Regions from separate parts of the Homo sapiens genome. Here regions 2 and 3 are each reported to be linked to region 1. Evidence: microRNA targets listed by miRTarBase, many of them from high-throughput screens and not tested one by one. Region 1 holds a microRNA gene; each other region holds the end of a gene's coding sequence.
What was found. Region 1 holds the annotated microRNA hsa-miR-1266-3p (CCCUGUUCUAUGCCCUGAGGGA, at 1,425-1,446, shown strand). A microRNA usually pairs through its seed, bases 2 to 8, with sites in the 3' UTR of a target mRNA and lowers its output. Matches are read on the target gene's strand: a 7mer-m8 pairs with bases 2 to 8, a 7mer-A1 pairs with bases 2 to 7 and ends in A, and an 8mer does both.

Region 2: miRTarBase lists JAGN1 as a target of hsa-miR-1266-3p. Seed matches in the 3' UTR shown: 7mer-A1 at 1,616-1,622.
Region 3: miRTarBase lists PTAR1 as a target of hsa-miR-1266-3p. The part of its 3' UTR that is shown has no 7-base or 8-base seed match.

The regions. Positions count from the first base shown.
Region 1 is chr15:52,273,979-52,278,576 of GRCh38, reverse strand. It overlaps MIR1266 (microRNA 1266), which reads left to right and starts at 1,377; the gene lies at 1,377-1,460. It overlaps MYO5C (myosin VC), which reads left to right. Exons shown (of 41, transcript NM_018728.4): 5 at 2,859-3,015.
Region 2 is chr3:9,892,920-9,895,919 of GRCh38, reverse strand. JAGN1 (jagunal vesicle mediated transporter 1) reads right to left here. Exons shown (of 2, transcript NM_032492.4): 2 at 1,571-3,000. The coding sequence ends at 2,543. Among named protein-coding and RNA genes, the nearest start is that of JAGN1, 3.8 kb to the right of the region's middle.
Region 3 is chr9:69,715,723-69,718,722 of GRCh38, forward strand. PTAR1 (protein prenyltransferase alpha subunit repeat containing 1) reads right to left here. Exons shown (of 8, transcript NM_001099666.2): 7 at 2,928-2,962; 8 at 1-2,846. The coding sequence ends at 2,620. Among named protein-coding and RNA genes, the nearest start is that of PTAR1, 43 kb to the right of the region's middle.

The DNA.
Region 1 (4,598 bases):
ATTCTCTGCTATGAGACGTTTAAGCTTTTTTTTTTTTTACCCATTGCAGGAAGTAGGATCTGATGACAGGGTTTTTAGCTGCAGGAGGTTTTAGGTGCAGGAGACATGGAATTTTATCCTAATTTCACTGCTAGGTGTTTGTAGGGCCCTGTGGAGTTCTCGTTTCACTAGTGCACATGTATGAAAAGCCTCCTGTGAATGAGGCACCGTGCACACATTCCCATGTGTCATCTGGGATGGCCTCAGAATAGCCCACGATGCAAATGTCTGGGCAGTAAACAGCTTCAGGGAATAACCAACCCAGGGTAGGCAGCAAGTAAAAGGCAGATCTGGGATTTGTGCTCAGATTTTTAAACTCTAGTTTATTTTTCCCATAACTATCACTTTTGGCTTCAGTGTCTTCATCTGTAAAGTATGGAGAATAGAAACACCACCCTATCTTTGTAGCTGCCTTTACAGTTTGCAAAAGAACTTTCACATACAGTGGTCTCCCTTGAGTCTTACAGCACTCCTGTGAAGTTGACTGACTTCATTGCCCTCATTTCACAGATGGGAAATCTGAGGCACAGGACCTGGACCTGCTGACTCTTTACCTAAATCTTTACTGCATAACCCCAGCCGCAGCTCCTGAGCTCCCTCCGCTTTATGTCTTCGTCTGTGAGCTGGACTCTCAGAGGGCACCCATTCCTGGTTCTGATGCTTATAATGAGGGAGCAGGTGGTGCTTACATGAGGTAGAACACGTGCTGCTTTCCTGCACAGATGTCTGATGGGCAGTCTGGGGCTAGACCGAGCTTCTTCAGAGTCATCAGAGACCCGGTGCCGTGCAGCTCCCTGTCCCTGGGGTGGGGCCGTCATCCTCAGGGACAAGCCAGTTCTCACCTCTGTCTTCCATATTCTAGGTAACAAGGCATATGAGGGGAAGGGTATGGCCCTCCAGGTTAAGGAGACTCTCTGGAAGCCCCACAAAGCACTTCTAACAGCTCGTCAGGCAGACCTCACTCACATAGGGAGGCTGGGATGTGCAGTCTTTCAAATGCACAGAGGGGCACTGCCTGGCCACTGGGGCCTAGTCCCTAAGAAGGAAGAGGAGAATGCAAATGCATACTGGGTAGAGAATTAGCAGCTTCCGCTGCACCAAGATTCCTTCTAACCCTAAAACCCCTGTGGTTCTGAGATTTTTCCCTGGCTCCCTGTAGGTCTCCCAGGTATCGTGGTGATTAGGGACTGGGTATGGGTGGGATGAGCTCTTTGGCACTGTAGGGCTGTGCTCACTTCAGCCCTAAAGAGCCAGTTTCTCCTTGGAGGTCTGTCTGTGTAACTGCCATAACAGAACGGAGCCCAAAGCAGGCTCGTGTTGGCCTTGTTTGATGCTAGACAGGTAGTGTCCCTCAGGGCTGTAGAACAGGGCTGGGATTACTAAAGCCCTGTTCTATGCCCTGAGGGACACTGAGCATGTCATTTCACTTCTCAGAGTCTTCATCTTCTCTCTTTGAAATGAAAATATTGGACCGGGGCTCTGTATCCAAAGTCTCCTCTAGCATTTACATGGGAGGCTGTGGCTCTGTGCTCTGGGTCAAGTCACTCCACCCCTGAGTCACCATTTTACTCTTCTGTAAAAGAGATATCTATGTCGTAGGATTTTTGTGAAGCTTAAATGAGAATCTGTATTCACCCAGCACCTGGCATGTGAGCGGTGCCACATCCACAGAGCCATGTTAGAAGCTTCCACCATCACAGTCTTATGACATGAAAAGTTTAATGCATTTTTAAAAAATCTCTAAATTATATAACAGAGCATGTTGGCTTAGAGAGCGCATATGTTCCCAAGCATCTTTTGAATAATTGCTCTCAAAATAATGTCCTTGAAATGTTTTTATATTTAAGTGGGATGTGCAGAAAGGAGTTGACATAAGGCCTGAGGCTGCTATCTTTAGAGGCCTGCTTGCAAGGTGGCCCATGGCTAGCCTCTGATTTCATGACGGTTCCTGACATTTCTTGGTTGAAAAAGTGGCTCATTTTACCTAAACTCAAGCTGTTTGTGTAAATAATGTGCTTTATGCTGAATACGTGCTTTCCTTCTGGGAGTCTGGAATATTGGCATATGCTAGGCAGAAGGTGGGCACTGCATCTCTAATGAGCTTCCCTGGCAGCCAGCATTTCACATGTGCTGTCAAATTCCTTGCTGGAAGAATTGAATGTGTCCTGTGTGACCCGACTGGGAGAGGACCCCTGGAAGTTTGCACCCGTGTTCCACTGGACCTTGCCCCGTGTGCCTTTTCCCCGTGCTGCTTTTGCTGTGTATCCTCTTGCTGCAATCAGTCTTAGCTGTGAGGATGACTATATGCTGAGTCCTGAGAGTCCTCTTACTGGGTCATTGAACCTGAGGTTGGTCTTGGGGCCCCTCAACATGGTACTCAATAAATACATGTTGACAGGCAGCATGATGACCTACACAGGGTCCATCTAGAAAGAGGGTGCTCAGGAGAGGGTGGGGAAGGCAGAGGAGAGATGAAATGAGAGGTGAAATTCAAGAACAGAGTTTAAAAGCAAAAATCCTGCCCAGAGAGTGGGAAGGATGGGAAGGAGCAGTTTTTTGGTTGAGTGGAAAGGTTGAGTAGGGAAGCAGTAAGGAGTAAGGATTTGAATAAGGTTGGATGAAAGATGTGAACTTTTAAAATTGTGTGTTCTGCACGATCACATAGAAAAAAAAATCTAGAAGGAAATTGATTGAGATTTAAAAATAGTAGAGTGACAAAACAGTTTCCCTCTTTTGTCTTGTCCACATTTGTCTTAATTAGCACATGTTGCCTCTTTAATGGGAAGAAACTAATATTTGAAAACTTTTATTTGCTTTAGAAACAACAGAAACCAGTCCATAATTGTAAGTGGGGAGTCAGGTGCTGGAAAGACAGTGTCGGCTCGCTATGCCATGAGGTACTTTGCCACCGTCAGCAAATCGGGCAGCAACGCTCACGTGGAAGACAAGGTCCTGGCATCCAATCCCATCACCGAGGTGCGTACCACTGCGGAAGGCAGCTGGGTGTTGGTGATGGAAATGGGGGTTGGTTGGTTTGTGTGCTCTCCTGGCTAATTCAAGTTCCCACCCTTTAAAGACTAAAGAAGTGAGGGCAGGAAAGACCCGGGAAGCCTATTTGCTGGTGGGATTTGAAGGAGATGGGGGCAGAATTGTTACTTTCAAGGCTCTCTTCTGCTCTACCTGCTGGGCTGGAAATCTACCATCAGACTCCAGGAGTCCTCTGTTTACATTTACATCCCAGGGGAAACCAAACATCACTGGTACACTGAAATCACTGGTGTTCTCCACCCAGCTGGCATCAGCATTCATGAGCTGATTGTTAAAATATTCAGGAATTTTGCAAGCTGATTGATAAACCTTTGGTAGTTTGACATCAGTCAGGGGAGAAGTATTTATACCTTCTGCCTTGGCAGAGGCCACATGTCAAGACTCTTCCTCCTGCCCTCCCCAAGAGCCAGTTCATCAGCACACTACTGACTGGGACAGAGAGTGGGCAAGGCCAACCGTGACGGTGCCCAGGGGGGTGAGGAGACAGCCCTCAAGGAAGAAGAGGCACCCAAAAGGCACAGAGGAGGGTCCTGCAAGCCAACTCCAGCTGCCCCGCAAAATGGGAAGAGGATTGATTTGAATTTATTTGGAAGCAAAGCAAAAAATTAAGAATATTAGACTACTAGACCTCTTCTCCCTGTTTTCTCAAATCAAAATCCTCAATGAATATTTATCAGACAATCTACTCTGTTGAAGTCACTGCTTAGCTAATGTGGGAAGTGATGGAAAAGAATAAGACCCAATCTCCAAGTGTAAGATTCTTCTAACCTAATGTAAGAATATTTTAAAATTAAATAGAAACATATGTCGGGGGGGGGGTACTAAGAAACACTGCAAAGCTCATAATTCAGAGGCATAGGCTTACTTAGAAACATAAATTACAATCCAAGATACCAATAGAAAAGTTATCAAGGCTGGGTGCGGTGGCTCACATCTATAATCCTGCACTTTGGGAGGCTGAGGTGGGTGGATTGCTTGAGCTCAGAAGTTCCAGACCAGCCTGGGCAACATGATGAAACCCCATCTCTACCAAAAATACAAAAAATTAGCCAGGTATAGTGGCACATGTCTGTAGTCCCAGCTACTCAAGAGGCTGAGGTAGGAAGATTGCTTGAGTCAGGAGGTGGAGGTTGCAGTGAGCCAAGATTGCACCACTGCACTCCAGCCTGGATGACAGAGCAGGACCCCATCTCAAAATAAAAGTTATCAAGAGCCAGTGCCAAGTTAAATGCCCAGTGGATAATTTTGTGTAAATATTTAGGGTTTGTCTCCTCTACTAGACTGCACACTCCATGAAGGCGGGACTGTATCTATTTGGTTTACCTTTGTTTACCGAGCGCATGGCACATAGTAGGTGCTCAGTAAAGACATGTTGGCAGGCAGCATGATGACCTGGGTCATCTAGAAACAGGGTGCTCAGGAGAGGGTGGGGAGGGGCAGAGGAGAGATGAAATTGAAGAACAGAAGTAAAAAGCAAAAATCCTGCCCAGAGAGTGTGAGGGATGGGAAGG
Region 2 (3,000 bases), not on the chromosome of region 1:
AAGACCAGTCTGGCCAACATAGTGAGACCCTGTCTCTATTAAGAATACAAAAATTAGCCAGGCATAGTGTCACATGCCTGTAATCCCAGCTACTCAGGAGGCTGAGTCAGGAGAATCGCTTGAACCTGGGAGGGAAAGCTGCAATGAGCCCAGATCGAGCCACTGCACTTCAGCCTAGGGAACAGGGCAAGACTCTGTTTAAAAAAAAAAAAAATTAGGCCGGGCGCGGCGGCAGGCGCCTGTAATCCCAGCTACTAGGGAGGCTGAGGCAAGAGAATCGCTTGAACCCGGGAGGCGGAGGTTGTAGTGAGCCAAGATCATGCCACTGCACTCCAGCCTGGGCGACAGAGTAAGACCTTGTCTCAAAAAAAATAAAAATAAAAAAAATAAATAAAAAGAATTGCATGTTTTTCACACCTCCTGTGCAGCACCTAAAAGCAGTAAAATAAGAACTCAGAGAAGGAATTCATGTTCCTTGAATTGAAGGAACCAGAAAGCTCAAGAATTGCCATATTAACTGGGCCTTAAAGGATAATTAATAAAGCAGTATAAAAATAGAAAAGGGAAATTTTTAAGCAAAGGAAACTGGGAAACCACGAAACCTACATGGGGATCCATAAGAGGTTTAGTTGACTAAGACAGCATGAGACTAGGGGTATTGGGAGATAATGCAGGACTGGTGGATTGGGACCACTTTGGAAACCTCAGAGCTTAAGGCATTTAAGTTGCAACAAAGATCATAGTAGGGACTTAATGATCATGGAACAGATAATCCAGAGCTGTACTCTTGGTATATACTCACTTGAACAAAGGGATGCAGGAAGAGGAATGGGTATGAGGCAGAAACACAAAGGTCTGTTTGGGACATACTTATTTTGAGATGATAATTAGGACATCTAGAGGAAGAGGTTTTAGAGTTGTAAGTACTGCCAGCCAGGCGCGATGGCTCACACCTGTAACACAAGCACTTTGAGAGGCTGAGGCAGGAGAATCACTTGAGCCTGGTAGGTAGAGGCGAGCCAAGATGGCGCTACTGCATTCCAGCCTGGGTGAGGGAAATGAAACACTGCCTTTAAAAAAAAAAAAAAAAAAAAAAAAAAAGGCCAGGCACGGTGGCTTACGCCTGTAATCCCAGCACTTTGGGAGGTTGAGGAGGGCGGATCATGAGGTCAGGAGATCGAGAGCATCCTAGCTAACACGATGAAACCCCGTCTCTACTAAAAATACAAAAATTAGCCGGGCGTGGTGGTGGGCACCTGTAGTCCCAGCTACTTGGGAGGTTGAGGCAGAATGGTGTGAACCCGGGAGGCAGAGCTTGCAGTGAGCCGAGATCGTGCCACTGCACTCCAGCCTGGGCGACAGAGCAAGACTCCGTCTCAATTAAAAAAAAAAAAAAAAAAAAAGTGACTCAGTAATGACTAACTACATACACAATGTTTCTAGAACAAAATAATGACTACATCTCTGGAGAGGGCAGAGCTCTGCAGTTACAGATCTGGGCATCATCCAGAGACAATAAAATCAAGTGCAAAGAGACACATTATCTTTCATGCAATAAATACTGCCAGAATTTTAGGTGTGAAAGGGCCTTTAGTTTAATCACAGATCTCTTCCTTCCTGTTTTTAATGTACTTGCTCCACATCATTAGATATTATGTTCACTGTTTCACATGAATAACAAGTTTCTACTGAATTGTAAATCCCTATAAACCGAGGTACTTTAAAATTCTTTTGGATGCCATTATACAGTAGTAGACTCATAACTGATACCCAGTTAACACTGAAAGATAAATGTGAATATCCAACTAAAAGAAGAGCCCATAACCTAAGGTAGATAAATGAGAATGGACTATTTCATAGATGGAGAGATTAAATGTCTGGCCCATAGTTCTTACCAATCAGCTGTAGGTTACAACTATGACTTAGGTTCCCCATACCCAGTCTACTTCTCTATGGCCACTGCTAGGTTTCTCAAGGAGCTTCTACCCATCATCTCCTAGTGTCTAAGGCCACACCTTTCAAGCAACACACCTTTCACACTCTATCAAGCCCCAAACACAAGGCACAGTGTGGGCAGGGCCATCTTTATTGAGGTTTTTAATTAAAATGCTTTGCAGAGGAGACCACAGCCTGCCAAGGGAGCAGCTGCCCAAATGTTTCCTGACCCGTGACCTAGAGATGAAGTAATTTGATTTATTCCCTATTTCCTTTAGTCTCAATGGCTAAGGGGTAATGGATGGAAATGGGGAGAATGACCGAGTAGAGGCAAGGACGAAGCTCATTCTTAAAGAAAAACCTCAAAGTTCAACTTCAAACAGCTGAAATTTGTTTCATAGCTGTTGGTCACCCAGTTCTAGCCAACCAGGAATAAATTATAGTTTTGCCACCTCAGCAGATGGCAAAAGGAGCTTTCCAGAACTTTGGCCTGGTCTGCACCAGGTACCAACATCACAGCTGCTAAAATCACCAGAAGGGATTTTGGAACCGCTGTACTAGTGTCCTTTCATTCGATGGGATGTCCAGGCTTCACCCCAAAGAGGCTTCATTTATGCTTCTTCTCCTGTGTGCTGGTGAACCAAGAGTCTAGGAGCTTCTTGCTGTAGTACAACTGCCAGGCATGCACTTGCACTGCCAACACCAACACCAGGTACATGATGGAAACGGCAGAAAAACCAAAGAGGAAACGGTAGGCCTTGCCATGGCGGTAGAGCTGCTGTGCAGCAGGGAACATCTCCATGCTGCCATAAATGAGTGGAGCGATGGAAAAGAGTCCCATGCTGATCATGGAGAGCACCAGGTAGCTAATGTTGTTGCGGGGAAAGGAGAGAAGGCCCAAGAGAGAGGGCAAAATGCTCAGCAAATACGGGTATTCCCACTGATAGGGCATGGCCACCTGATCATGTGACAAGAGCCTCAGGTGTCCCACGCTCATCTTAGCAACCAGCAGCAGCCATATGACCAGATGTACGTAGATCAGCTTCTTGATTTCATACTTGAGAG
Region 3 (3,000 bases), not on the chromosome of region 1:
ATCATGCTACAGCTAGCGGGTTTAAATATTAACCACTTAGGAAAAAAACCAACCATATAGGGCAATATTAGGATTTTCTGTGAATGAACAATTAAAAAATGCAAACTCTAGAAATAAAGCAGCACACAAAAGTTACATACTAACAGTATCCTTTGGGTATTTGCATTTTTGCTCTCTACTTTAAACTTTTAGGAAGGAAACAAGACATATTAAAGGACTGTGCGGCTTCAGAAAAGAGTGGGTTAAGAGCCTTAGAAGATATGAAAATAGTTTACACACCAAAGATAGGCAAGATAATCAGTGGAAGGTACACAAAGGCATGGAGCACTATAAAACTTAGCTAGTGTTTTATAGGGTATTGTCTACACTCATTTCCTGACATTTTTTCACATCAAAGCATAAGCCCTATTACTCAAAATGTGAAAAATGATTTTTAGGAAAAAAGGTAATACTGAGTTAGGCCAGAATCTGGCAACATATTTTAGTGGAATGGGCTGAACCACCCATGTCTTCTCTGTGTAGTTTGCCCCCAAACACTCACAGGAGCTAAAAATCATAAACTTATGATTTTATCCATAGAGGTCTAGGTGGACCTTGAGGTATTTAATTCAAAATATGCTTTGTACACAAAGGGCCATGGAATTATGTTCATAATGGTATTTTTTCATCTAAATAATATAAAAGCTATAAAAAGGTAATTTTTTACTTGAGAGAAGAACAAATTCTGTCTACTGGGGCCAGGCTAGACAACTTTTCTGGCGTTCTTAAGTCTCAACTCACTTCAACAGTCTGCCACTCAACAAAACCATGATGCCAAAGAAAAGGACATATTTCTTCTTCTTTAAGGCAGTCTACCTAACTCAAGTCCAGGCTTTCCGTAACAGTGAGAGAGAGGTTTACTTTCCCTACATCTTTATCCCCACTTTACAAATTACCTAGCAAGTAAAAAGAACAACAGGCAAAGCATTGTTGTCACACTTATTTCTGCCACTATTACTCACATTCTGCACAGATAGGACAACTGACAGCTTCCATCATTAGGGAAACTTTTAGAAGGGCCACTCTTCATATTTCTGGTATATGAATGTATTTTAGATGAGGTATGAAATTCATTGCAAATAGGGGGTAGAAATCTTGAAGACACACCCCTGAAGTAAGAAAGGAAAGGTATACAAAAATGACACACAAAAGTGACAAAAAATACGTAATGGATTGGCAAAACAAAGTATATGAAAAGAAGAAACAGACCACTTACAAAAGGGCAAATATAAGAAAGCAGACATTACATGGCCCATTCCCCACCCTCATCCCACCTACCTGAAAAACTCAGCCCTTGTTATTGGAAACATAAGATACGGCTATAATGTGGATACTTTGGTACCTCATCCCTGATTAAGTTCAGTATCAAAGTGTTTTGTTTTGCACATACTATTCCTTCCCTTGGCATTTGCCAGTAAACTTTAACAGTCACTTCATGATAATTTTATAGTTTCCATAGTGTATCCTCAATAATTTAGATTTTTAAAAAGGAATATTTTTATGGATCTATTTCTTTATATATTTCTCCCATTTGTCATAAGTGAATTTGAAATTAAAAAGTAGTAATAGCTAAAAATGGCATTCCAGGTTTTCAGGAAAAAAAAATCAATTTTATAAGGACTGATGTGTTTTGGCATATACCAAATTTGAGGTAAAAATAATCTATCAAAACTAGCAATAAAAATAATTTTCCTTTACTGCAATTACATAAACTCTTAAGTTAGTTTTTTCTTAAATAACCATTTAAAAAATGGATTACATTGGAAGCATTTTTTTCATATAAATTCCAATACTTCTGACTTTGGTAATTGGGTAGAACATGCTAGAGAAAGAGAACTAGTTTACATTTTTAAACATTCGCCCATCTAGCCATTTGATTCTCAAAACAATTACATCAAGTTATTCGGCATTCATACCAACATTCTTCAGTTGAACTGCAACATAAATGTTTATTTTCAATTTGTTTTAGAGACAGGGTCTCAACTCTATTGCCCAGGCTGAGTACAGTGGTGCAATCATGGCTCACTACAGCCACAAACACCTGGGGCTCAAGCAATCCTTCTGCCTCAGCTTCCTGCATAGCTAGGAACACAGTTGCATAGCACCATGCCTAGCTATTTTGTTTTACTTTTTGTAGAAATCGGGTCTTGCTATGTGGCCCAGGTTGGTCTCAAAGTCCTGGGCTCAGGCAATCCTCCTGCCTAGGCCTTAAATTTTTAATTTTTAAAAGAATTTGCCTATGCAGCAATTGGACTGAGGGGGGTAGAGGTGTGTGTGTGTGAACCAATCAGGAAAACCAAATGAGAAGCCCCACATATAGAAATACAAAGGGTGAGAAGTTAAACAGAAAATTTAAGACTCGCTGTTCAGCAGGAAGGAACTATACGATTATTTTATCCCCACAGGAATGCCAGTTATTAACAAAATAAATAAAATGAAAGATTTACTATGGACTTTCAACCTAAAGACGAAGAACATATGGTTAGCCAATAATAGTAAACAGTTCATGCAACTATGTAAATAATAAAAGAAAGCAATATTGCACTAAAAGGGGAACCTTGTAGGACTAATTCACCTCTTTCATTGACTCAAAGTAACCAGCCATTTCCTGTATGCACTGGCAAACCTGGCTTGCTCCACGTTCCGACAGGTGGACAATACTTGATCAATGAACCTGTGCTCCATTTCTAGGCCTAGGGAGTCTGGAACTGGCGTCCGCTTCAGGCGTTTGGTTTCCTGGGAATAGCCTTGCTTGCTAGAGTCATTCAGTCCATCTACTTCCATTGCTTGAGACAGCTGGGAGCCTGCTGGGATAAGGTGCAAGTCACTCAAAGTCCCCCCAGGGCTGTCTGCAGGTGACAACTGGGTCATGCTGTGAGGAAACCTACCATTTAAGTGATGCTGAAGGTAGAAAATATGCCGCCTGCGATAGAGAGGGGAAGGAAGAGAATAAAGAAAATC